Linked DNA regions of Homo sapiens. The protein of the gene in region 3 purifies or fractionates together with the protein of the main gene of each other region. This does not show direct contact. Each region holds a gene or a part of one and is shown on either strand. Other genes may lie near its edges.

Region 1 (3,500 bases), on a different chromosome or scaffold from region 3:
GGTTGGGCCAATAAAGCCCCTTCATCATCCTTCTTTTCTGCTTATCACTAGAGACAGAAACTAAAAACCATGGCTTCAGGCTGCTAAAAGCCTAAAACAAAACAGAACAACAACAACAAATAAGGCAGGTTGGACAAGCTTGCTGAGTATTTGGGAGCCTTTTTCAAAAGTCTGATTTGGGGGAAGTAAAGTCACTTATTTTAAGCTACCTTAGTATAGCACCTAAAGAGTTACTTTGTGAATTTTGTATGGCTGCAATTGAAAAAAAAAATTGCTCACTTTCACTTGCATTTAAAAATCAGAGCTCTAAAAGTTAATTCTTGTTTTTTATTGGGAAACTCTGAGAGAAACATTAATTGATGAGGGTAATAATTTTGGTATAAAGCCAGTGAAATTTTAATGCTTAACATGTTGGGTTTTTTAAAATTACTGATTGAAACTCTTCCTTTTCTATTTAAAGATGATGAAAAAGATGAGCATACTTCTAAAAAGCGCAAAGTAGAGCCAGGAGAACCAGCAAAGAAGAAAAAGTAGAAACAAATGACCAGAATTTCTGTACTGCTAAACTTGTTGAAATGTTTCTTTGGACAGATTAAGTTGATATTGTGGGTTATTATGCCACATCTCCATGAAAATGCATACGTTAATGAACTAATAAGTATTGCCTCAAGAACTTTCCACTATAGAATTCTTTTTTTATTTAAAACATGTATGTATTTAAAACTCAACTGGTGACTTGTGATTGTGAAATTGATAACACTTGGATGCATTCTTGCTCTCACAGAATTGGTGACATGCTTTGAGAGTTTTGTCACATGTTGACATGCCAATGTTCTTATAAACCTTTTATAAAGGAATATATTTTTAAAGTAAATATATTGTAATGTACTGTGAACTTGTAGGGTGCTTTTCAACAGTCTTTGTACAGTGTAAATAGATCATGGAAATAAAATTACTTATTCAATATTACTATTACTGTATAACATTAACATTTGAATGTTTGTCTGTGACAAGTACCCTATTTGTCGTGTGACATTTTAAGTTGTAATAAGAAGTATTACCATTTAAAGAGTGCCTCCTGTGTTCCAGGTGCTTTGTGCATATATTTTCTCTGATCCTTAAACAACCTAGCGCAAGGTATTATTAGTATTCTCATTTTATAATAAAGAGTGCTTGAGTAGCTTGTCTGATGTTACACAGCTAGTGAGTGGTTCATTTGGAATTTAACTTGGGACACTTGAACCTCAAAATCATCACATTAAACCACCTGTCCACCAGTCAAAATTTAGTCATCTTTCAGGAATGACATCAATTGTCATCTCTTCCAGGTACTTTTTTCTGTTGTACCTGGAGATCCGTTAGTAGAGATCTTTTCCTCTCCTGATTGGATGACTGTACTTGTCATCTGTGCTTTATGGTTATTCATTAATTTCTTTATTAAATTGTAAGTTTACAGGACATTCAGTTAAATTTGAATTTCAGATAAATAATGTTTTAGTATATTTAATATTCAGGACATATACAAAAAATGTGTTTATCTGAAATTCAAATTTAACTGAACATCTTTTATCTGGTAACCCTACTTCTACATGTTTTCTCTACCCAGCTTCTATTTTAATGCTTTGCGTATAGTAATAATAAAATGAACAAGAAGTAGTTGGGAAGGTGTGATCGTTGAGTTCCAAAATGCAGTTATTTGTAGCATTTTGAACAATAAAAAGGTTACACTCTGCATCAATCTTTCCATGAATCTGAAGCCCTTAAGAGATAAGAATTACAGAACAGTGCACATTCAGTGTATAAGAACAAGACAGCCAAGCATGGTGGCTTATGCTTGTAATCCCAGCACTTTGGGAGGCCAAGGTGGGAGGATAGCTTGAGGCCAAGAGTTGGAGACCAGCCTAGACAACATGATAAGACCTCATCTTTACAAAAAATAATTTAGAAAGAAAAAGACATAATCTAAGTATTTTTTTTTAAATCTGTTTTTCCCCATTGTGGAAGATAAAATTTGAACAATTACGCGAGATTTGTTTACCTAGGCATGTGTATCAAGTAGATTAAAATTCATAAAAGTCATTAAGAGTGATTGCATCAGCCATGGTGCTTTGTGGAATGAAGGTCCATAACAGCATGATGGCTTCCAGTATATCATCGAGTTTAGAAAAACCAATTCTATAGCTGCCCATCCTCCAGGTTTGCAAATATATGAATCCCAAAATTGAAGTAATTGCTAAAGCAAGAATATGTTTTTTTAAGATTGTAGTCTTTGTAATGAATTTGGAAATCTGTGGTATCATATACTAAGGAGTGGCATCAAGTGACAAAGCAAGACCATAGTATGTACATGACACCAAACACAACCAAATCAAGTTATATTTGTGAAGTTGTGATTCCCAAGCTCTGGAGAAATCTAAAATTTGGATGCATGTGTTGGTGGAGCAAATATCTCAGAAGTTACTGAAATATTGCAAGGTTCTTAAGTTAGCATGAAAGCAAACTTTTTTCTCTCTTTCCTGGGAGATGTGCAGAGTATGTTGTATGAGGAGGAAGACAGGACTTAGGGAAGAGGCTAAATATTTTGGAGCAAGTCTGACTCAGCCATTTGTATCTCCTGGTTGGAAAACGGACTGTCATATCACTCTACATTCATCATCACATTAGAGAATAGATTATTTTCCCCTTTAGAGATGTCCTGGGAACGTGTTTGCACAAGTGTCCATGTGGGTACTGAGGTGAAGTTTGGTTGAGCTAGTGGAAACCTAGTGGGGAAAAGTCTTAAAAATCCATATACATAAGAAAAATCATCTGTCCAAGTATCTTTCATTTTAGAGAATCGAGTCACTTGATACTTCTGATTGTTTCCTGCACTTTAAGTTAAGCCTGGGCAACATGTTGAGATCCTGATCTGGTTTGGCTGTGTCCCCAACCAAATCTCACTTGAATTGTAATTCCCACAATTCCCACGTGTCATGGGTGGTGACTGAATTATGGGGGTGGGTCTTTCCGGTGCTGTTCTTATGATAGTGAATGAGTCTTACGAGATCTGATGGTTTTAAAAACCATCAGTGCAGGGAGTTGCCCTGCACAAGCTCTCTGCCTGCTGCCCTCCACATAAGATGTGTCTTGCTCCTCTTGCCTTCTGCCATGATTGTGAGGCTTCCTCAGCCATGTGGAACTGTAAGTCCAATTAAACCTGTTTCTTGCAAATTGCCCAGTCTCTGGTATGTCTTTATCAGCAGCATGAAAATGGACTAATACAGTTAATTTGTACCAGTAGAGTGGGGTACTGCTGAAAAGATACCCAAAAACGTGGAAGTGACTTTGGAACTGAGTACAAGGCAGAGCTTGGAATGTTTGGAGGGCTCAGAAGAAGACAGGAAAATATGGGACAGTTTGGAACTCCCTAGAGGCTTGTTGAATGGCTTTGACCAAAATGCTGATAATGATATGAACAATGAAATCCAGGCTGAGGTGGTCTCAGATGGAGATGAGGAACT
Region 2 (3,500 bases), on a different chromosome or scaffold from region 3:
GAGACCCACAGCGTCTAGCCTCAAATCCACTTCTTTCTTTTCTTTTTTTTTTTTTGAGACAGAGTCTCGCTCTGTCACCCAGGCTGGAGTGCAGTGATCTCGGCTCACTGCAACTTCCCTTCCTGGGCTCATGTGATTCTCCAGCCTCAGCCTCCCAAGTAGCTGGGATTACAGGCATGTGCCACCAAGCCCAGCTAATTTTTGTATTTTTTAGTAGAGACGGGGTTTCGCCACGTTGGCCAGGCTGGTCTCAAACTCCTGACCTCATGATCCACCTGCCTTGGCCTCCCAAAGTGCTGGGATTACAGGTGTAAGCCACAGCGCCCGGCCAAATCCATCTCTTTCTAAGGCCTGCCTCCCTTGTGTATCTTCCTTAATAATCCTAGCCCATCTATCACAATCACTTTTGTCTGAATTCTTACAAGCTCATCAGGTATTTATGGGCCTTCTGACACCACTTACATTGTAATCCAAATACCTTTTTAGCTCTTCTAATGCTATTACACTTCCCTATGTTTTTATGCCTTTTCTACCCAACTAGATTTATAAGCTCTCAAGGAACACTTATCAGAGTGCTTTGCAAGCTGAAGGTCCAACATTCTTAATTGGCCAGAATCTCTCTTCAGAGGAAAATAGGACACCCACCTTGGGGGCAATGCGGACTCGCTTGCTATGGCGGGCAAGCTCTGAGCTCATGAGGGAAGCCGCCAGGGGCAATGGCACCTTCACCGAGGGCTGCAACACCAGTGACTGGTTCACCGGGAACTGGATAGGTACCAGGTATGAGCTGACCCGTGGTAGCAGTGGCTTCATCTTCCGCCCTAGGAGGAAACACGAGAGATCAGGAGCAGGGGGACTGGAGTACACCCCTTCTCAGCCCCAGGAGCTTTGCTCTCCTTCTCTGGGCTCAGATCCCTTTGAGGTGGGAACAGAATCCCAGAGTCTGGTTCCCTAAAGATATGGCCCCAGAACAAGGACCAGGCCCAAGGCCCACTCTCCCATACTAACGTGCGCCCAGGGGGAGTTCGGTTTTGATGGTCATGTTCCGGCGGAGCTCTGGATTCGGTCGTTTCTGCTGCTGCTTGTGGCAGATGGGGAGAGAAAGAAACCTATGTTAACACAATAAGGTAAAGAGGGGATGGCAAAACCCCACCAGCTGCTCTGGTGGTGTGTGCTTGAGTTAATGACAGCCCAGAGAGAGGAGGCCAACCTGAGGGGATGGACGTAGGCGAGCAGTCTCCAAAACTGTGATGAGTGGGCAGGTGGGTGGCCTACAGACACATGATGGCAGAGTGGCACTACCGCTTCACCCACGTGTCCTCAACACCCCTGGGGGATGCCAGAGCAGGTAGCTATATGCGTGGCAAAGAAAAGCTAGGCACAAAAGTGAGCGAACGAACTGCCGCCCCTGAGGCTGGTGCCATGCGCTTGTGGCTGCTGCAGCATGCTCCCCTGCTGTGCCCTGCTCTGCTCAGTGTGCCCTTGTGATGCCCATGGAAGGGGAGGGAAGTGGGTGTGTGCCTGACCCTCAGGGTGTTCTGTGTCTAGGGCTGGCACCTAGACAAAACATGGCCATAGGGACCCTTCCCCACATCACATCTTGTCTCTGTCCACTAAAGCCATGCTGAGCAGTGAAAGGAAAACAAGGCCAAGCCCCGAGCCAGAGGGAAAGAACCTTACTGATTCCAAGTGCTCGGGCAATTGTGGAGACCCTGGGTCCAGTGGCTGGTGGCGGCCAGGCATTGTGGGAGAGAAATGAGATGAAGTTACCACCAACGTGGTCAATTTGACCGGATTGGGAAAAACACTTATTCCTGACTGATGACAAAAGACACCCCAGACAACTGCCCCTCCCAGGAGAATGGTTACAGCTACCAGCAGCCTTATGGGCACTCTGAAAAACCAAAATAACTTCTTTCTGAAAAGACGTTCTGGTAGCTCAGCTTCTGGTCTCCAGCCTAAGGCAGGCTTTTTTTTTTTTTTTTTTTTTTTTTTGAGACAGACTTTCACTCTTATTGCCCAGGCTGGAGTGCAATGGTGCGATTTCAGCTCTCCACAACCACCGCCTCCTGGGTTCAAGGGATTCTCCTGCCTCAGCCTCCCAAGTAGCTGGGATTACAGGCATGCGCCACCACACCCAGCTAATTTTTGTATTTTTAGTAGAGACGGAGTTTCTCCATGTTGGTCAGGCTGGTCTCCAACTCCCGACCTTAGGTGATCCACCTGCCTCAGCCTCCCAAAGTGCTGGGATTACAGACGTGAGCCACCACACCCAGCAGGAAGGGCTTTTTTTAGAGCAAGCATTCCCAGAATTTCTTGTAAGAATCACCTGAGATGCTTGCTAAAAATACAAATTCCTGGGCCCATCCCAGAAGCACTAAATCAAGAGCCCCAAGAGAGGGGTCTGGGAAGCTGTGTTTTAACAATGTCCCAGGCAATTCCCATTCACAGGGAAGTTAGGAAAACACTGCCCTGGGGAGCCCTTTCTGTTGGGTCAGAACAGCCTTCTCCTTGCTCTGGTCTGGCACAAAAATGTGTCATTTGGTATTTGTCAAGTGTACTTAATTCACTGGGTTTTGTGCAAGTCACTAATTGGGTGGCTGGCTTCTAACTCTCCCCTGATCAAATGAAAGCATCACTAGCAGAACTTGTTTCCTTTTGAGATGGCTATGACAACCTCCAACTTAGGCCCTATTTAGAGGAAAGCAGGGCATTCACCTTAAACACCTGGTCCAATGTCAAGTAGCGGTTGGCACTGGGGTGAATGGTCCAGAAGGAGACCTTGCCATTGGCAGACGTCTCCCGGACAAACATGTCGTGCAGGGAAAGGTTGTGGCGGATGGAGTTCTGGAAGAAGAGCAAGACAACTGGTTATCAGCTACTTTAGATTCAGAAACATCACCCTTCAAACACATGGGGAAACCAGCCTCAGGCCCCTCCCACTGTGCTCAGCACAGGCTTCGTCTGGTGTCTTTGCAGCCCTCTTGGCAACTCTCCTGACACTCCACACCGCAGAGCCGTCACCTTCAGCCATAAACCCATCTATTCTACGGGAATAAAGACTGATGCCAACCTTAGATTGTGATAAAGAAAAGACCTAGATAGCTGTCAGGGGCTAGAAAAGCAGAGTAAGGCTGTGAGGTAGTGATCAATAGCAAGAAAGGTGGCTCAGAGAAATTAAGAAACTAGGGAATTAGGCCCGGCGTGGTGGCTCACGCCTATAATCCCAGCACTGTGGGAGGCCAAGGTGAGTGGATCACTTGAGGCCAGGAGTTTGAGACCAGCCTAGCAAACATGGTGAAACCCTGTCTCTATCAAAAATATAAAAATTAGCCAGGCATGGTGGCGCATGCCTTTAGTCCCAGCTACTCGGGAGGCTGAGGCAGGGGAATCACTTGAACCTGGGAGGCAGAGGTTGAAGTTAGCCAAGATCATGTCACTGCACTCCAGCCTGGGTGACAGAGTGAGGCCCCGTCTCAAACAAACAAACAAGAAACTAG
Region 3 (3,500 bases):
AACCTGCCTGAAGGTCAGAGTGCAAGTCAACTATAGAGCCAGGATTTAAACTCAGTCAACTATTATCCAGAGCCAATGTTTTAAACTATAATACTGTAAAGAAACTCTTAATCTGAAGTCCCATACCTCTTAACTTAAAAAGCACAAACTGCAGCTTGGAAACACAATGATTCTGACATGACTATTCTCCTATGATATAAACATTTAAAATTTTCCCTCTCTTGTCCTGTCCTCCTCATCCTCAAAAACCAGCAGAGTCATCTAACCAGCTGCAATCCAGCTATTGCAATCCAGCCAGTAGACCACACAGCCAGGGGGCAGAAGGAAGAGAAAGGAGGGAGAGCTGTGTATATTCTATACATAGCTGCATATACTTCTCCCCACCACCCCCAGATATCTGTGACATTATAATGCTGAGAAGTTAGGTTACACAGCACGTATTAATGCACAGACTTAACCATTCCGTATTTTTTAAAGTTAGCCACAAAGTATTGTACAAGCCAAAATGGTACATGATTTTTCATCTACAGACTATATAGTACAGGTTGTTGTACAGTTGGTATGAAGTTATTTATCAGCAGGTTTTTCAAACTTGGCAGCTCTTTCTTATCCCTCTCTTGGTTAAGACAAGTTTTTTCACTGCATTTAAAGTTCAAAGACACAAGACAAGTGATTTTTGCCAATTGTTCTTATGACTTGGAAGCAATGGACACTTGTTCCTGAGCCTCTCTGATTTTTGGCACACAGGAGATAAACTCTGAGAAACATACACCCACTGTTACATGGAGGAGAAAGTACAGACATCAAAGCACCATTTACTTTATTTTTAGATATCATATCAAGGCTATTCAGGTTTCTTAAGAAGATCCAATAGAAAAAAGAAAAAGAGAGATGAGATTATCACTCTCATGCTTATGCAATACGATGTCCTAAATAGGTTCCAGTTCATTTTCTTTAGACTTCAGCCATCAGAATATATTCAGACCCTCCCCGTCCCACTGCCCCGGCACCCTCCTGCCTGTTTGCCAGATACTTCCTTGGAAACACTTTGGTAGGACACAAATACAATGCATGCAAGACAAATCAGCATAATTTTCAAGTAACTTGCAGCTTCCAGGAACACTAATTTCAGTAATAACTATATGCCTTCACTTCCCAAAACATTAGCACTGCTGTCAAAGAGATCTGGGTCATTTTCCTGGCTTTGAAGCTCTTTGTTTCTTCAAAGACTACAAGAGGCAAACCAAGAAAGCAAGAGAGACATGCACCAGGAAAATTATGTGATTACTGAAGTAATAGATTCCTCTAAGTGTAACTTTCTTTTGAAGCTTTGGAGAAAAAAATAAAAATTAGAGGCCGGGCGCAGTGGCTCACGCCTGTAATCCCAACACTTTGGGAGGCCGAGGCGGGCGGATCACGACGTCAGGAGATCGAGACCATCCTGGTTAACACAGTGAAACCCCGTGTCTACTAAAAATACAAAAAATTAGCTGGGCATGGTGGCGGGTGCCTGTAGTCCCAGCTACTCGGGAGGCTGAGGCAGGAGAATGGCGTGAACCTGGGAGGCGGAGCTTGCAGTGAGCCGAGATCGTGCCACTGCACTCCAGCCTGGGCGACAGAGTGAGACTCTGTCTCTAAATAAATAAATAAATAAATATAAAAATTAGAAACTAGCCTTCAGCAGGACCATAGAAGACAAAATCTCCATTCTTTCAGGGCTGTCCCTATCAACAACCATGTTTCTAGGAACAGCCTGTGCACTGGTGAAGAAGCTAGTAAAAATATTCAGGTTCACAGCCAACTCAGAGCCACAAAGACCAGCAAACATACTGAGATGGAGCATGGATGGAGCATGAACTATGTGGGAAGCAGGAAAAATTGTGGAGTGCTAGAAAAGACAGACCTGATTGGGGTGACTGAGAGCAACCAGGTTTGGTTCCAGGGAAGGAGGTATGTCTGGTCCCTAGTCATCAAACTGAGAGCAGTTTGAGACCAGCCTTTCCTGGTCCTCTGGCCTCTCCCACAGTGGTGAGGCATCATTATTCAGTCAGCAGAGTGGCCTCTGGCACATGCAGGAGTCCTGGAAAAGGACTTGAGAGAGCTGACAGTCTCTGCCACTGGATTTCTATTGTATGTTGACAGATTACTTGACTTCTCTGAGTCTTGGTTTCCTGATATGCAAAATGGTGATAATAAAGCCTGCCTTAACTGCTTCCCAAGGTCATCAAGAGGGTCAAATACAATTATATGAAAGTGTTTTGCAAAGTTATAACAGCTAGAAGTTGCAGGCCTAGAAGCTGGGCTTCCTAAAAATTATACAAACTTTGACTAAATGAAGGCAAGTACAAGTTACAACTAGAACCCAATTCTCCATACAAATAAACCTCTGCTATACCTATATACAAGCCAGTCAAACAGACTACCAGCAACTGAGAAACCCCTAATGTTGGCCATAGGCAAGACAGCTCATGAGTGGCTGAGGTTTCTGGCCAGAGCTCAGAGTCCCACTGGTGAAACGACGTGGTAGCTAGTTCCTCTGCTGTCTATCCTGTACCCTTTCCTTCTTCCAGAAAAGCACTCTTTAGCCTCAAGTGCCCACTTTGTCCTCCTCCTCTCCCACCTTGTGCTTACAGCCTGCCCCTCCCTGGCTACAATAGGTGGTGGAGGGTGGGACTGCATGTGACCACAGCAGGACCAGTCAGAAGGCTGTTTTGAAAGGTTTCAAACTGGAACTAAGAGGAGAGACCCCTCCCAGCAGACACTGGGGGGATCTGCAGCTTGGGAATCACGTGAAACCAGTTTTTCACTAAATGCAGGAAGTTAGTTTGAGAAGAGGAAGTTAACACTCAGAGAGGCAGAAACCCTGGACTCCTGCTGCTGCAACACCCTAGGGCCAGATGTCCTATGCTCTCCACCACCCCTGCTCCTTCCTGGGAGGATGTGAACCTGCTAAGGAACTCCCAAAGAAGTTCATGTTTGATTTTGTAACACACAACCCAGGTGCACTGACCCCACATTAAAAAATGGCAATTTCCATACTAAGGCAGACTCACAGGCTATTCAAACCAGTATCCGGTTTCAGGAAAGCACACCAAGGGATGTTTGCAGGAGGCTATGGTTGTCCTCAAAAATGTAACCTGCTTTGAATGGCTTTTGAAACATCCTAGTTTGCCATTGGGTCCAATACAGCTCTGTAAATGTATCTTTACCTCTTTTGCACCTATTTGTATTTTCAATCTTTATCCACTTTCAAAGATAACCCATTCCAAATATGTACTGTCTACTGTCTGAAGCAATAAGTATTACACCTCTTCAATGTTCAAAGCCTAAAATACAAATTCTCTTTGTCAACTTGTTTCATATCACTGTGTGAGTTTCTGTCCTTATCAAAATTAAGAGGAAAAAAACAGCCCCTACCTCTATTAAATCAACTGAACTTTCTCCAATTTTATGTAGAACAGCACCATATAAACTTTTATGTAACCCCAATCTCCCTGAGT
Region 4 (3,500 bases), on a different chromosome or scaffold from region 3:
CATTCAGCTATGGACTGAATTTCAGCTCCACATGGTGTTTAATTAGATTGAGAAACTTTCACTACATCTTTCACAAAAGATGCATTATCTTCTAGCCAGCCTTCACAAAAACAAATCTGACACATGAAAACCATGTTTGTAAAAATTTTAAGTTGGGCAAGAACTGCTCTACAAAAGGAGTTAATGTAAGACTCCTCTAGAAAGCAAGCTTTACTGACACACCCAACTCACAATGCAATTTTCACAAAGCCTTTTAGAAATCATCTTCCATACACAATGAATTTCTTCAATAGAATTTTACTTTGTAATCAGAAAGTACTATTCGTTAAACTTGAAAATTAGTATTTAATTTTTTATGTATCCAATTAATATTTAATTAAAAATTTTATATTATGAAGAACTACAAACCCAAGAAAAGCTTATTTTCTTCAAATAATCTCTACAATTGTAATTTTTATTATTTTTGAGATGACAAAATATCAAAATACACATTTAAATCTACAGTTTTAGCATTAAACCATAATATAATCAACCCAATTTATATTAAAAGTAAAACTTGAAAAATTTAATAAAAATTCCTCTTAGCAGGGTCATAATAAATATTTTGCAATAAGATATGCCAAGAGAGCAAAAAAAAAAAAAAAAATCACATCTCCTAAATTTAAGTATATTAAAACCAGGTAAAATAAAAAACATCTTTTTTTTGTTTTCCTCTTTTTTGGTAGAGGTGGGGTTTCACCATGTTGCCCAGGCTAGTCTTCAACTCCTGGGCTAAACCAATCCACCTGCCTTGGCCTCCTAAACTGCTAGGATTTATAGGCATGAGCCACCACGACCAGCTCAAAGAAATCTTTAAAAGACAATCATAATTTCTTCAGTCATTAAACTTTTCTAGTACTTCTTTTAGTATATTTTTCTCACATAAACACTGCGTTTTCATTCTTTTAATGAAAATAACACACAGAGCCAAGTTCCTTACCAGTATAATGAAATCATTTTACCTGATACAAGATGCTTCTCTGATAGCATGATTTTTGTTACGGGACTTCGGTGAACTGTGAAAGTCTGAAAAAGCTGAGGACCTGACCCAACTGTCTCTGGGTGTTGTACAATCACTCGTACTGCTCCAGAGCTCGTACCATAGGCGATCTCGATCCAGTTACCACTGACACCTATATAAAGTCAAGAGTTGACAGGTGATACATTATGGAACGATAATAAAAAAGCTACCCTCGCAAAGCTTCCCTATGATAAAATAGGCAGAGCTGGATTCACTGTTTATATCAGCCCCAAATCCAGTTCAGTAAAAAAAAAAATCTTAAGACTTCTCCGGTCATCTTAAAATCATTATTTCCTTGATAAATCTTTTCCTAACCCTCACTCCAAGACGTAACTATTCACCTCCTGCCTTGCACTATTAGGTTCTATCACAGTAATTATAACACACTAATTCTGTACTTATTTCTATGTCTAGCTACTTCTATTCCTTATTGACAAAGACTGAATCATAATCATCTTTTTATCTGTCACCTCACAGAGTGCCTGAGACACCGCAGGTACTCAACATAGTTTAAAGAATTCATAAATCTGCCATGCCAAGAACACTACTGAAACAGCATAGTATTCCAAAAGCAATATTCCTTATTATGTCTAGCCTAGAATTACCATCTGCTTTACTTAAACTACAATACTAAATCATTCTCAAATAATCAAGCATTAAATATACTATTTAAGTTTCAAAACACTGTGCTAGGGAATAAACATACCCATTACATTGCTTACATCATACTTAAAATATGTTGTTTCTTCTAATCATCTAAGGTTCAGCTGTGTCTTTTGTTTTCTTTTTTTCAAAAAGTGCCCAGACCCCATTGCAAATTTAGATAGGAAAAAATTCAGTGACCTATACTCTTAAAAGCTTCATGGATAGAGAACATCTTAGCTTTACTGGCTGTTCTAGTTTTACTAACTGATTCATCTGAAAATACTTGAATCAAAGGAAAAAAAGCATGTCATGAAAAACACCTCCTAGAACCAGAAAGATGACTCCATTTTTCATGCCTTAAAATCCCCCTGCCACTACAAAAGAAGTGCTTTGATTTGTAAAACTTTCCCAGTTTTATGCCTGCCTTTTAACTAGATTTAAAAAAAAAATCCACAGCTCATTCTAGAGCAGGGGTTGGTACACTTTCCGTAAGGGGCCAAGTAGTAAACATTTTAAACTCTGCATGCCACACTGTCTCTGTCACAACCTCTCAATTCTGTCATTGTGGCATAAAAACATCCAAAGACAGTGGTATCAAAAAGAGCCAGCTTGGCTAGAAATCCGTGGTTTACTAAACCCTATTTCTAGAGCAATACAATTTAAGTCCTACTATGGTTTCAGTCAAATTCATAGGTATACTCTTGAATATTTCTTTCATACTAAAAATTATGGTTTCTTTTAATAACTTAAATGAAATGATGACTTATATAAGTAGCACATCCAAACCTATTAGTATTACTGAATACAAATTGTTTCTTAGAACTCCTTTCATTACAGATAAATTTTAAATTTCCCATTTGTGCTTATCTTTTACTCCAGAATACAAAAATTCTTACTACTTTACAGAACTAGTCTGTTACTTTTATTGCAATGGCCTCTAAAATGCACTGAAAGTTATAAAATGCCTTTTTTCTACAGCTTAAATTTTTAAATTCCCAAGAAAATAAGCTTAGTTTCCAGCAGTAGTCTAAGAACTTTTTATTTTTTAAAAAGCTCCTAATTTTTAAGTGAAAAATTAGTTATTTTAATAGGAAGACAAATGTGCAGAATTTTTTTTTTTTTTGAAATTTCAGCTAACATTATAATAATATGGCTCAACAAATGCAATTCAGCGTAAGGGGAGTTCCAATTTTCCACCTCAAATTATGTTTGTTTACTGGTCATGTTTGACTTCAGTATAAAACTGAATACAAATTTTAGACTTAGTAGAGATGAAATCCTTAGGCACTGCAGTTCTCAAAAAGAAATAAACCAGTTTAATTTGACCTAGTCACATAATAAACTAATGAATAAAAAGATAAAAAGTCAAGAATGTATATAATTGGCCATGTACTAACTTGTTTTGGGTGTGAGGTAAACACTCAGAGCAGTAATAGCATCATTTGAAGGATCATGATACAGTTCAGTTACAAGAAGATCATTATCTTTCATTCGCAAGGGGAACTTCTGCATATCTAAAACATAAAAATTTTAAACAGCATTAAAATAAATAGCATATCTATTTAAAACTGAAAGGTAATGTTTTCTTGTTCTCATTTAAAAAATTACATTAAGCAGGAGCATTTTAAGTGACTGAACACTTACCTATGTAATATATTGATCCATTGTTACATCCAAGCAGAAGGAATGATCCAGCAGTGTCATAACTAGTTATAGGAACAACATCTTGAACCTGATGTAGTGAGAGTATTATCAGATGTTAGATAGTAATTATAATTTCTATTTTCTGGTCAAT
Region 5 (3,926 bases), on a different chromosome or scaffold from region 3:
TCTCAAAAAAAAAAAAAAAAAAAAAAGGGCCTCACTCTGTCACCCAGGCTGGAGTGCAGTGGTGCAATCTTGGCTCACTGCAACCTCTGCCTCCTGGGCTCAAGGGATCCTCCCCCTCAGCCCTCTAAGTAGCTGGGACTATAGGCACGCACGCCCAGTTAATTTTTTGTTTTGTTTTGTAGAGACAGGGTTTCACCATGTTGCTCAGGCTGGTCTCAAACTCCAAAGCTCAAGCGATCCACCCGCCTCAGCCTCCCAAAGTGTTAGGATTACACGTGTGAGCCACTGCTCCCGGTCTACAAAGTGTTTTTATTATTATTATTATATTATTATTATTATCTTGAGATGGAGTCTCACTGTGTTGCCAGGCTGGAGTGCAGTGGTGCAATCTTGGCTCACTGCAACCTCCACCTCTCAGGTTCAAGTGATTGTCCTGCCTCAGCCTCCCAACTAGCTGGGACTACAGGTGTGCGCTACCAAGCCCAGCTAATTTTTGCTTTTTTTTTTTTTTTTTTGAGACGGAATCTCACTCTGTTGCCCAGGCTGAAGTGCAGTGGAGCGATCTCGTCTCACCGCAACCTCTGCCTCCCAGGTTCAAGAGATTCTCCTGCCTCAGCCTCCAGAGTAGCTGGGACTACAGGCACGTGCCACCATGCCCGGCTAATTTTTGTATTTTTAGTAGAGACAGGGTTTCACTATGTTGGCCGGGTTGGTCTCGAACTCTTGACCTTGTGATCCACCCGCCTCGGCCTCCCAAAGTGCTGGGATTACAGGCGTGAGCCACCGTGCCTGGCCTAACTTTTGTATTTTTAGTAGAGACGGAGTTTCACCATGTTGGCCAGGATGGTCTCGATCTCTTGACCTGGTGATCTGCCCGCCTCAGCCTCCCAAAGTGTTGGGAATACAGGCGTGAGCCACTGCACCGGGCCTACAAAGTGTTTTTAATCAAACACTACGGATGTGTAAAAAATCAAAAATAAAAGTTGTCCTACTATTTTCAGACCCACTTCCCTATTAATAGTTTCTGGTGTACCTTTGCAGATATTTGCAATGTTATACAAGTTTTACATGCCTGTGGGGGTTGGGAAGATTGTAATCCTTTTTAAAAATTACAGGTTAAAATTATAGATTGATATACCCTGCGATTTTCTTTTTCATTCAACAACACAGAGATTGGCCGGGCGCAGTGGCTCACGCCTGTAATCCCAGCACTTTGGGAGGCCGAGGCGGGCGGATCACGAGGTCCGTAGATCGAGACCATCCTGGCTAACATGGTGAAACCCCGTCTCTACTAAAAATACAAAAAATTAGCCGGGCGTGGTGGCGGGCGCCTGTAGTCCCAGGTACTCGGCAGGCTGAGGCAGGAGAATGGCGTGAATCAGGGAGGCGGAGGTTGCAGTGAGCCGAGATCGCGCCACTGCACTCCAACCTGGGAGACAGAGCGAGACTCGTCTGAAAACAAACAAACAAACAAAACAAAACAAAACAAAACACAGAGATCTTTCCATGTCCACATACATATATATACATCTACCTCAATAACTTAAATAACTGCACAGTGTTACAGAGTAATAGCGCATAATTTGGAATCCTCTGTTAACGGATATTTAGATTGTTTCTAGTGTTCTGGTGCCACACACGATATGTTATATTCTTGCATATAATGTTGTAGGGTCCTCCAGTCGCCCCCTTTCTTTCTCTGTCCTGATGGAAAATCAGAGTGCCTTGATTGCTCTCTGACCTAGCCAGCGGCAGGTTTCCCTAGCAGGCTTGACCATAAACCAGGGGCCTTGAACATTCACAGGCCTGATAAAGGTACCTAGGTTGTTGCCCAAAACACTGGAAGAAACTGGCCTCAACCCTGAGCCAAATTCCTTTAAACTCTCATCTGAACTCCATACCCTGACCCCCTCACTGCGGACATACCCAGGAACACCTTTCTCCCGGTGTCCGTCTTGACAATTTCTGCAGCCCTCTGCAGGTTTCCCCCTAAACGCTTTTGGACTGATCGCCTTGGCATTCAGTGCTTCTTTTTCTGTCATCCCAACCAGCCACATCTCGGGAAGGTTTGAAGCACTCCCTCGTGGGAACTCTCTTGCCGCTGCTTTTGGGGCGATTCCAGCCTCGGGTTCGAAAGAACAAAGTAACTGCACATTTTGTGCGCGTATACTTGCATTAAATTTTTTTAACAAGAATGACTGGATGAAAAAGCATGTGAATTTAAAATGCTGATGGTTCTTGCCACATTGCCAGGATAGGATCCTTTTAGAAGGGGAAACAAATCAAGAACCTGTACAAAGAGATGTGGAATGCTCCTTGTAAGTGGACAGCTTTGCTTTCCTCCTTTAATTTCTATTTGATGAAGAAGGCAGTGCCTCACTGCTCAGAGGCAGCGAGGCCAGGCGACGGGAGAAAACACCCTGGGGCACTCTCAGAGGCTGAACCTGAACCCCATCTCCTGCCTCTGAACCCAGGATCCTTCCTTCTCTGCAAATTTCGGCTACTTTCCACCTCCCCTGTGACTGGGAAAAGCGCTGTTCTTGCCCTCAACCACTCTCATGTCCATATTTAGGGGTGCCCCTCTCCTCGGCTCAAGCCCCCGGGGTCCTCTCACCTATGGTTCTCGTTAAGCAGGGAGAAGAGCGGGCCGAGGCGCAGCTCCGCCGCTTGCTGGCGAAGCTCGTTGAGCGGCACTGCCTGCAGCACGGAGTGAAGCGCGCGTAGCTCCTCCAGCGGCGCTTCCAGCCTCGCTACCTCTCTCAGCAGCGCCAAAGCCTGGGCTGCCATCTTGCCCCCCGACGCAGGGGCTGGCCCAGCGGCCCAGTTCCCGGGGCGCTTTCCTGAACCTCGCGAGATCTGATCACAGCCTCCTTGTCCCTGAGATGGCTATGGGGCTGCCAAGCCTCGCGAGAAGCCTCCGTTAGGGCCGTGTCAACTGTAGCCAGTGGTTGCGGCTCCCTCAGTCTGGCGTCATCTAGGTCGCTGCTCAGGGAAATGCGGAGGCCAGTAGGCTTACGTGTTTACCGCGTAGGGCAAAGCCTTGCCAAATTCCCGGCCAGCGGAGCGGCGAGGGTGGGGACTCACGGGAAGTTAAACAGCCTCGTCGGCGTCCTCGAGGCTCCAAAACCAGGCTCTAGGCGGGGACGACTGCAGCCGTTATGGAGGCCACCGCGGCTACGGCCGCGGCTGAGGCCTCCCCAGGTGGAGCGGTGGCCTGGAGGGGAATCTTGATCCTGGGCCAGCCACCTGTCAAGAGGAGGCGGAGCGTCATGCCTCTGGAAGACTGGATGAATATTCTCCAGGAGCCTGACGAAGGCGTGAGTAATAGGGACGTGCGCCGCCTTGTTGGTGTTGATCAGTCCACCAAGGAGAAGCAGCTGGTCGCAGTGGCCGTACCTGTAATCCCAGCGCTTTGGGAGGCCGCGGCGGGAGGATCGCTTGAGCCCGGGAGTTCGAGACCAGCCTGGGCAACATAGTGAGAAACCCGTCTCTACCAAAAAGAAAAAAAAAAAAAAAGGAAAAAAATTAGTGCGGTGTGGTGGCACGCACCTGTAGTCCCAGCTACTCGGGAGGCTGAAGCGGGAGGGTCCCCTAAGTCTAGGAGGTCGAGGCTTCAGTGAGCGGTGATTGTGCCACTGCACTCCAGCCTGGGCGACAGAGCAAGACCCTGCTTTCCCCTCTTGTCCTCCACTACCCTCAGGAAACCAAGAAAGACCAGCGTGGAGAGTTGGTCGCCCATCTGCTCTAAGCTGCTGTGTATTCCCCTGTAATGTAAACATCGTGAAGGTGGAGACCCAGTTAACCTTTTAGGTGGAAGGCCAGATGACAGAGGGCGGCATCTGACCCGGAAGGCCCTCTGCAACCAGGCCAAATACATCTACAGGGAACCAATGGGAAACATCTGGGGAGGACAACCCAAATAAGTA
Region 6 (3,500 bases), on a different chromosome or scaffold from region 3:
AAAATTAGCTGGTTTTGGTGGTGGGCGCCTGTAATCCGAGCTACTTGGGAGGCTGAGGCAGGAGAATTGCTTGAACCTGGGAGGCGGAGGTTGCAGTGAGCGGAGATTGCACCACTGCACTCCAGCCTGGGCGACACTCACACTGGGTGACAGTGTGAGACTCCGTCTCAAAAATAAATAAATAAATAAATAAATAATAATCTTGGCCAGGCACAGTGGCTCACTCTTGTAATTCTAGCACTTTGGAAAGCCAAGGTGGGAGAGTCCCTTGAGCCCGAGTTCAAGACCAGCATGGGCAACATGGCAAGACCCCATCTCTAAATAAAATAATAAAATTATTTTTAAAATTTTTAGAAAAAATGTATTTGATGTATTTCAAAGACTGTTTCCCAACCCCTCTCTTTTAGTGCCCGAAGTGACGAAACCAAGTTTAAGCCAACCAACGGCCGCCAGCCCAATTGGCAGCTCTCCATCGCCACCAGTCAATGGTGGCAACAATGCCAAAAGGGTGGCAGTGCCGAACGGACAACCGCCAAGCGCCGCCCGCTACATGCCTCGGGAGGTGCCGCCGCGATTCCGTTGCCAGCAGGACCACAAAGTGTTACTAAAACGTGGGCAGCCCCCTCCACCGTCCTGCATGCTCCTTGGGGGTGGGGCAGGGCCTCCTCCCTGCACAGCACCTGGAGCAAACCCAAACAACGCACAAGTGACAGGAGCGCTGCTGCAGAGTGAGAGTGGGACTGCGCCAGGTAAGGCACCCTGTGAATCGAATGCATGGCAGCTTGACAGAGAGAGAGCACTTTGTTTGCATTGCTTGATGTAAAGTCCAGGAAAGCCATTCATTATATAAACCACTGGGATTAGTCAAAAGATGAGAGAGGATCCTAGTATGCGATGTGTATTGGTGATTCTTGGAACTGAGGTTTAGTGTTCCGTAAGTGTGTGCTCTTGGCATAAGGGCTAACTTAACTGCTGTTGCTTATTATTTTGGGGGCCTTTTTTCCTTCTCAGACTAGAGTGTTACAAATTTGAGCCTCCATAGTTCCACCGTCATATGTGTTCAGGGCATAATTGGACATGGGGCTTGTGCGAAGGCGAATCTTTAGATGCCTGTGTTATGTTTCCAGAATGCTAGGAGGATAGAGAAAATGATTTGCTACATTGCAATATAGAATCTTCGGAGGATTCTAAAATAATACTATAGTTTTTAAATTAGATTTTTAAACTCAGTATTTCTTTTTGTGGGCCCTGGATTTTGAGCTTTGTTAAAAACTGTATGTAGAAATAAGGGATATTTAGCTGAAAGGTTCTACTAGAAGTTTTGAGAGTTTTTGGCCGGGCACGGTGGCTCACGCCTGTAATCCCAGCACTTTGGGAGGCCGAGGCGGGTGGATCACCAGGTCAGGAGATCGAGACCACCCTGGCTAACATGGTGAAACCCTGTCTCTACTAAAAATATAAAAAAATTAGCCAGGCATGGTGGCGGGCTCCTGTAGTCCCAGCTACTCGGGAGGCTGAGGCAGGAGAATGGCGTCAACCCAGGAGGCGGAGCTTGCAGTGAGCCGAGGTCGCGCCATTGCACTCCAGCCTGGGTGACAGAGCCAGACTCCGTCTTAAAAAAAAAAAAAAAAAAGTTGTGAGAGTTTTTAATAGATGAATACTAAGTCAACTAACAGCTAAGAAATTCTAAATATCTTTTAAAGTTTATTAACAGATTTCAACTTAAAATGTCTTTTGGGGTGATATTAAAATTCAGAGCTTGAATACCATTAGGCATTGGCAAAGATAATGAATTGATGGTTGTCACCAGTAGGATGCTTTATTTGAGTTCTGAGTTTAAACAAATAATTGCCTAGAAAATTTGGTCACCATCTTGCTGTGTGCAGAGTAAGGATGGAAAGAAACCTCGTGGTGACACAGACTTCCTGCAGAGATAAGCCCTACCCATGGCCTTTCCTTCCTGGCTCTCCAAACCAGCTGCAAAAGGAAGCATGTGAAGGGGCAGGCCCTGTCAGGCGGAGTTTCTGCAGCCGAGTGTAGCCAGGCCTAGGTGGAGACTGGGGTCCAGTGTGAGTCAGAGTCCACATTATTAAAACGGAGGAGGCCCCTAAATCTCGAGTTTCGGTTTCTATGCTTTTTATTTTTCTATGCCTCCGTATAATACTTTTTGAAACTTCAAATTGATTAAAAGCTGCCTGGTTAAAGAAGCCAAAATAAATTTAGAAGAAATGATCTCATTAAAAACATGTTTTTCCCACCAAATATGGTAAATTCCACCAAAATATATGGTGAGCCAGACTCATTTAACAGATTAAGTTCCTTGGGGTTGTGAACTCTGCCTAATTCATACTCATGTGACACCCCTGCCACCCTGGGCACCTAGCTCAGTGGCTCAGTGGGTATTCATCATTCAGCAGATGCTTACTCCGCAGCATTGTGCTGGCTGCTGTGTGGAATTCTAACGTTAGCAAGTTAGGGTCTCTGCCTAAAAGACGCTAACATGGGGAAGGAAAGTTGTGAACATGGTGCCACAGCACTGAGCAAAATGGCTCTAGACAGGGAAAGATTATTTTCAGGTGATGAGCTTGAAAACAGCTTCGCAGATGAAATGACACTTGAATTGGGCCCAGAAGGATGAGTAAATTTCACTGTGTGAATTCAGCAGGAAAACACAGTAGGTGCCAACGTGAAATGGTGCCAGAGTGAGAAGGCACAAGTTGTGGAATGTCAAGTAGTATCGAATATTGACATCTACATAGGAGGTAGTAGAAGATAAGACTAGAAAAGTTGGTTGGTCCCAGGTCATGGAACATCTTGATGACATTCGAGGCCAAGGAGTTCAGCTTTATTCTTGTGCACTAAGGAACTGTTGAAGGTTCTCCATACAGCAGTGATATAATCAAAAGTGTGCTTTAGAAAGATTGCTCCAGCCAGGGGTGTTTAGAGTAGGTTGAAGATACAGAGCAAGTTTAGAGTGCCATTGCTATTGCCTTGTCCCAAGATACAAGAAGGCCCTTCTCTGTCAATAGGAATGGCAAAGGACGTAGCTTTGAGAGAGATGAAGTTAGACTTAACCGGTGTAACACAAGGCAAATGAAAAAAAAGAGATGACTAAGACAGTTGTGATACAAGCAACTGGGTTGAGAGAAACTGGCATGTGATCAGCTCTCCTAAGGGCAGAGCTCAAAGGAGAGCCCCTTTGAGGGATTAATGGGTAATGAATGCATTTGAAGCTGTGATTAATAAGATGATCTGTTCCCCAGACTCAACCCTTGGAGGTGCTGCTGCTTCAAATTATGCAAATTCCACTTGGGGCTCGGGAGCCTCCTCCAACAACGGCACCTCCCCCAACCCAATTCACATCTGGGACAAGGTGATTGTAGACGGGTCTGACATGGAAGAGTGGCCTTGTATTGCCAGCAAAGACACTGAATCTTCTTCCGAAAACACCACCGATAACAACAGTGCCTCGAACCCTGGCTCTGAGAAGAGCACTCTGC
Region 7 (3,500 bases), on a different chromosome or scaffold from region 3:
TTTATCTTTAGCTGATACTAGTTTGGTCTATCCAGAGTGAGACAAGAATAAATTCATTAGCTATAATTTTATATTCTAAAGACTGTTTACACATACAATTGGTAATAATTGATTATAGAAACCTAACTTAGAAGAGCCTGGGGAGCTAAGCCTTATCAACAGGCTATACTTAAAGAAACGTGGTGCTAGGTAAGGCATCACCTTCCCCACATATTACCTGAACTTTCCTTATTCTTGATGGAGCAGTGGCAGCCACATAGGGTCCCATCCTCAAAAGACCCTTCAATCTCCTAATATTTTATATATATTTCCTTCATATAGGGTCCTATATAAGGGGGAAAAAACTTCAGCTCTCTTGGACACAGGACAACAGATGACACAGCACCTCCCCACCTCAAAAAAAGCAAACCTCAACCCAGTTATTCCTTTAAAAAGATGTCAGTTAGTGAGCAACTCTGGAGAGAAAGCCATACCACTGAGGCAGAGAAGTATTTTAAAAACATTTGTTTTGTACAACTCAGCATTTACACCAGGGAGCTGATGCATCTCTGAGCAAATCTATAAAACTACCTAAATCAAGTATTACAGCAATATGCTGTATCTAGATGTATATTTTAAATTTTATTAGTATTTCCCATTATGAAAAAACCCATCCCCTTGAAAGTAAATCTCCACCAATCTCTATCATTAATAAGAATGTCAAACAAGTCTGTTACTTCAACTGTAAAATGGGAAGGCTGGAGTTTGTCACTGTTTTTAAAGCTCAAGGGAGAAAAGCCACTAACCATTACTTTTTTAAAAAGTTATAGCTTCCCATGTCACCCTCCTGCATGCTGCCCAAAACATATGGAGAATATAAGGTGATTGTTGAAAATATGTTGCCAAAATAAATAAATAACCTCCCCAAGTATTCTTCCCTTTTTCCCTAATAAGTTAGAAAACTACTGGACGATATAATTGCCAAATACATCCCAGGCCCAAGAGGACATACTATAATTTTCAGTTGTGTTCATTACCCTCAGACAAGATGGTATGCATTTGGTATTCTCCAGAAACAAGGAATAAAGGATCTGATGCTAAATTATAAAGTTATTAATAAAATATATAGGAATAGATACAATGAAACACATTACTTAAGAATTTAATATATGTTAGAGGATGCATCATTAAACAACAAGTTAAAGAGAACTGTTATTTAATGCTAGGGAAAAAGATGATCAAATCTGTGGGGAAAAGGAGTTTAAAAGCTTCATCTCATTCTGTATATTCAAATAACAGAGCTGAAATAAAGTATTAAGAGTGAAACCACAGATAGCCTAGAAGAAACTAGAATTATTTACCAACCCTTTGGAGGAAGGACTTTCCTAACTTAAGTAACAGAAGAAAGAAGAAAAAAAATCAACATATTTGACAACAAAATTTAAAGAGAAATGGCTAAGAAATGTTGCAATAAATTGTAGTTAATATGTTTTCTATATAAAGAACTGATAGAATAATCATTAGGATATCAACTATTAATTAAAGCAAAGATAGCTTTTTTAAGTTTGTTTGCCAAGGTAGAAAAGATTAAATAAAAATATCCATTATTGGCAAGAGGTACAGGTAAAACCTAACTCTTTGATTGCTAGTGGCAGTATAAATTGGAATAAGCCGTTAAAACACAATTACAAAATTAAAGACCTTTAAAAATGTTTTGCTCTATGGAAAAAAAATTCTAGCTCATGGATAAGAAGAATCAATATCATTAAAATGGCCATATTATCCAAGGCAATTTGTAGATTCAATGCAATCCCTATGAAACTACCAATGACATTTTTCACAGAACTAGAAAAAACTATTTTAAAATCCTTATGGAACCAAAAAAGAGCCTGAATAGCCAAGGCAATCCCAGGCAAAAGGAAGAAAGATGGAGGCATCATGTTACCTGACTTCAAACTACTGCAGGTCTACAGTAACCAAACCAGCACAGTACTGGTACAAAAACAGACACACAGACCAATGGAACAAAATAGCCCGGAAATAAGGCTGCACACCTACAACTGTCTGATCTTTGATAAAGCTAACAAAAAACAAGCAATGGGAAAACTATTCAATAAATGGTGCTAGGATAATTGGCTAGTCATATGCAGAGGATTGAAACTGGACCCACCTTCCTTACATCACAGACAAAAAATCAACTCAAGATGGTTTAAAGACTTACATGTAAAACTCAAAACTATAAAAATCCTGTAAGACAACCTAGGCAATACCATTCTGGACACAGGAATGGGGAAAGATTTCATGACAAAGATGCCAAAGCAATTGCAACAAAAGCAAAAATTGACACATGGGATCTAATTAAACTTAAGAGCTTCTGCACAGCAAAAGAAACTATCACCAGAGTAAACAAATACCCTACAGAATGGAAGAAAATATTTGCAAACTATACATCAGACAAAGGTCTAATATCTAGCATCTATAAAGAACTTAAACAATTTTAAAAGAATAGAAAAACATTTAAAAAGTGGGCAAAGGACATGAACACACACTTTTCAAAAGAAGATATACATGTGGCCAACAAGCAAATGAAAAAAAGCTCAACATCACTGATCACTACAGAAATGCAAATCAAAACCATAATGAGATACCATATCACACCAGTCAGAATAGCTACTATTAAAAAGTTAAAAAATAACAGATGCTGGCAAGGTTGCAGAGAAAAGTGAACACTTCTACACTGTTGGTGGGAGTGTAAATTAGTTCAACCATTGTGGAAAGCAGAGTGGTGATTCCTCAAAGAGCTAAAAACAGAACTACCATTTGACCCAGCAATTCCATTACTGGGTATATACCCAAAGAAATATAAATCATTCTATCATAAAGACATATGCATGTGAATGTTCATACAGCACTATTCACAATAGCAAAGACACAGAATCAACCTCAATGCTCATCAATGACAGATTGGATAAAGAAAAAGTACATATACACCATGGAACACTAAACAGTCATAAAAGAAAATGAGATCATGTCTTTTGCGGGAACATGGATGGAGCTGGAGGTCATTATCCTTAGGAAACTAACGCACGAACAGAAAACCAAATACCGCATGTTCTCACTTATTAGTGGGAGCTAAATGATGAGAACACATGGACACAAAGAGGAGAATAACAGACACTTCAGCGTACTTGAGAGTGGAGGGTGGGAGGAGGGAGAGTATCAGAAAAAATAACTACTGGGTACTAGGCTTAGTACCTGGGTGACCAAATAATCTGTAAAACAAACCTCCATGACACGAGTTTACCTATGTAACAAATCTGACCGTGTACCCGTGAACCCAAAAGTTTTTCAAAAAGCTTTGCTCTTATGCCCAACTGCCCAAGTAATTCTATTTTTGAAAATTAGCTTATAGAAATATGAAATATGGAAAAAAACTTCACATCTCTGCCCTTTAATAAAACCTTTATACATACTCCCACTTCCAGCCTGCTGTCCTCTAATAATAGAGAGAAACTGGAGAC

Evidence for each region.
Region 1: the proteins of RNASEH2B (region 3) and C1orf52 purify together in Homo sapiens (affinity purification with mass spectrometry; one large-scale study listed by BioGRID and IntAct). This does not show direct contact.
Region 2: the proteins of RNASEH2B (region 3) and FOXM1 purify together in Homo sapiens (affinity purification with mass spectrometry; one large-scale study listed by BioGRID and IntAct). This does not show direct contact.
Region 4: the proteins of RNASEH2B (region 3) and KCTD3 purify together in Homo sapiens (affinity purification with mass spectrometry; one large-scale study listed by BioGRID and IntAct). This does not show direct contact.
Region 5: the proteins of RNASEH2B (region 3) and PSMD5 purify together in Homo sapiens (affinity purification with mass spectrometry; one large-scale study listed by BioGRID and IntAct). This does not show direct contact.
Region 6: the proteins of RNASEH2B (region 3) and TNRC6B purify together in Homo sapiens (affinity purification with mass spectrometry; one large-scale study listed by BioGRID and IntAct). This does not show direct contact.
Region 7: the proteins of RNASEH2B (region 3) and HERPUD2 purify together in Homo sapiens (affinity purification with mass spectrometry; one large-scale study listed by BioGRID and IntAct). This does not show direct contact.

The regions. Positions count from the first base shown.
Region 1 is NC_000001.11:85,249,663-85,253,162, reverse strand, and holds the end of C1orf52 (UPF0690 protein C1orf52), read left to right. Parts: intron 1-460; coding exon 461-534; 3' UTR 535-3,210; downstream 3,211-3,500.
Region 2 is NC_000012.12:2,863,675-2,867,174, forward strand, and holds part of FOXM1 (forkhead box protein M1), read right to left. Parts: intron 2,848-3,500; coding exon 2,719-2,847; intron 1,726-2,718; coding exon 1,681-1,725; intron 1,272-1,680; coding exon of another isoform or gene 1,211-1,271; intron 1,082-1,210; coding exon of another isoform or gene 1,079-1,081; coding exon 1,009-1,078; intron 822-1,008; coding exon 646-821; intron 1-645. UniProt on the Homo sapiens protein: Transcription factor regulating the expression of cell cycle genes essential for DNA replication and mitosis. Plays a role in the control of cell proliferation. Also plays a role in DNA break repair, participating in the DNA damage checkpoint response.
Region 3 is NC_000013.11:50,916,291-50,919,790, reverse strand, and holds part of RNASEH2B (ribonuclease H2 subunit B), read right to left. Parts: intron 1-3,500. UniProt on the Homo sapiens protein: Non catalytic subunit of RNase H2, an endonuclease that specifically degrades the RNA of RNA:DNA hybrids. Participates in DNA replication, possibly by mediating the removal of lagging-strand Okazaki fragment RNA primers during DNA replication.
Region 4 is NC_000001.11:215,601,804-215,605,303, reverse strand, and holds part of KCTD3 (BTB/POZ domain-containing protein KCTD3), read right to left. Parts: intron 3,438-3,500; coding exon 3,350-3,437; intron 3,220-3,349; coding exon 3,103-3,219; intron 1,173-3,102; coding exon 1,002-1,172; intron 1-1,001. UniProt on the Homo sapiens protein: Accessory subunit of potassium/sodium hyperpolarization-activated cyclic nucleotide-gated channel 3 (HCN3) up-regulating its cell-surface expression and current density without affecting its voltage dependence and kinetics.
Region 5 is NC_000009.12:120,840,123-120,844,048, forward strand, and holds the start of PSMD5 (26S proteasome non-ATPase regulatory subunit 5), read right to left. Parts: upstream 2,801-3,926; 5' UTR 2,788-2,800; coding exon 2,615-2,787; intron 1-2,614. UniProt on the Homo sapiens protein: Acts as a chaperone during the assembly of the 26S proteasome, specifically of the base subcomplex of the PA700/19S regulatory complex (RC).
Region 6 is NC_000022.11:40,261,425-40,264,924, forward strand, and holds part of TNRC6B (trinucleotide repeat-containing gene 6B protein), read left to right. Parts: intron 1-407; coding exon 408-749; intron 750-3,263; coding exon 3,264-3,500.
Region 7 is NC_000007.14:35,639,636-35,643,135, forward strand, and holds part of HERPUD2 (homocysteine-responsive endoplasmic reticulum-resident ubiquitin-like domain member 2 protein), read right to left. Parts: intron 1-3,500. UniProt on the Homo sapiens protein: Could be involved in the unfolded protein response (UPR) pathway.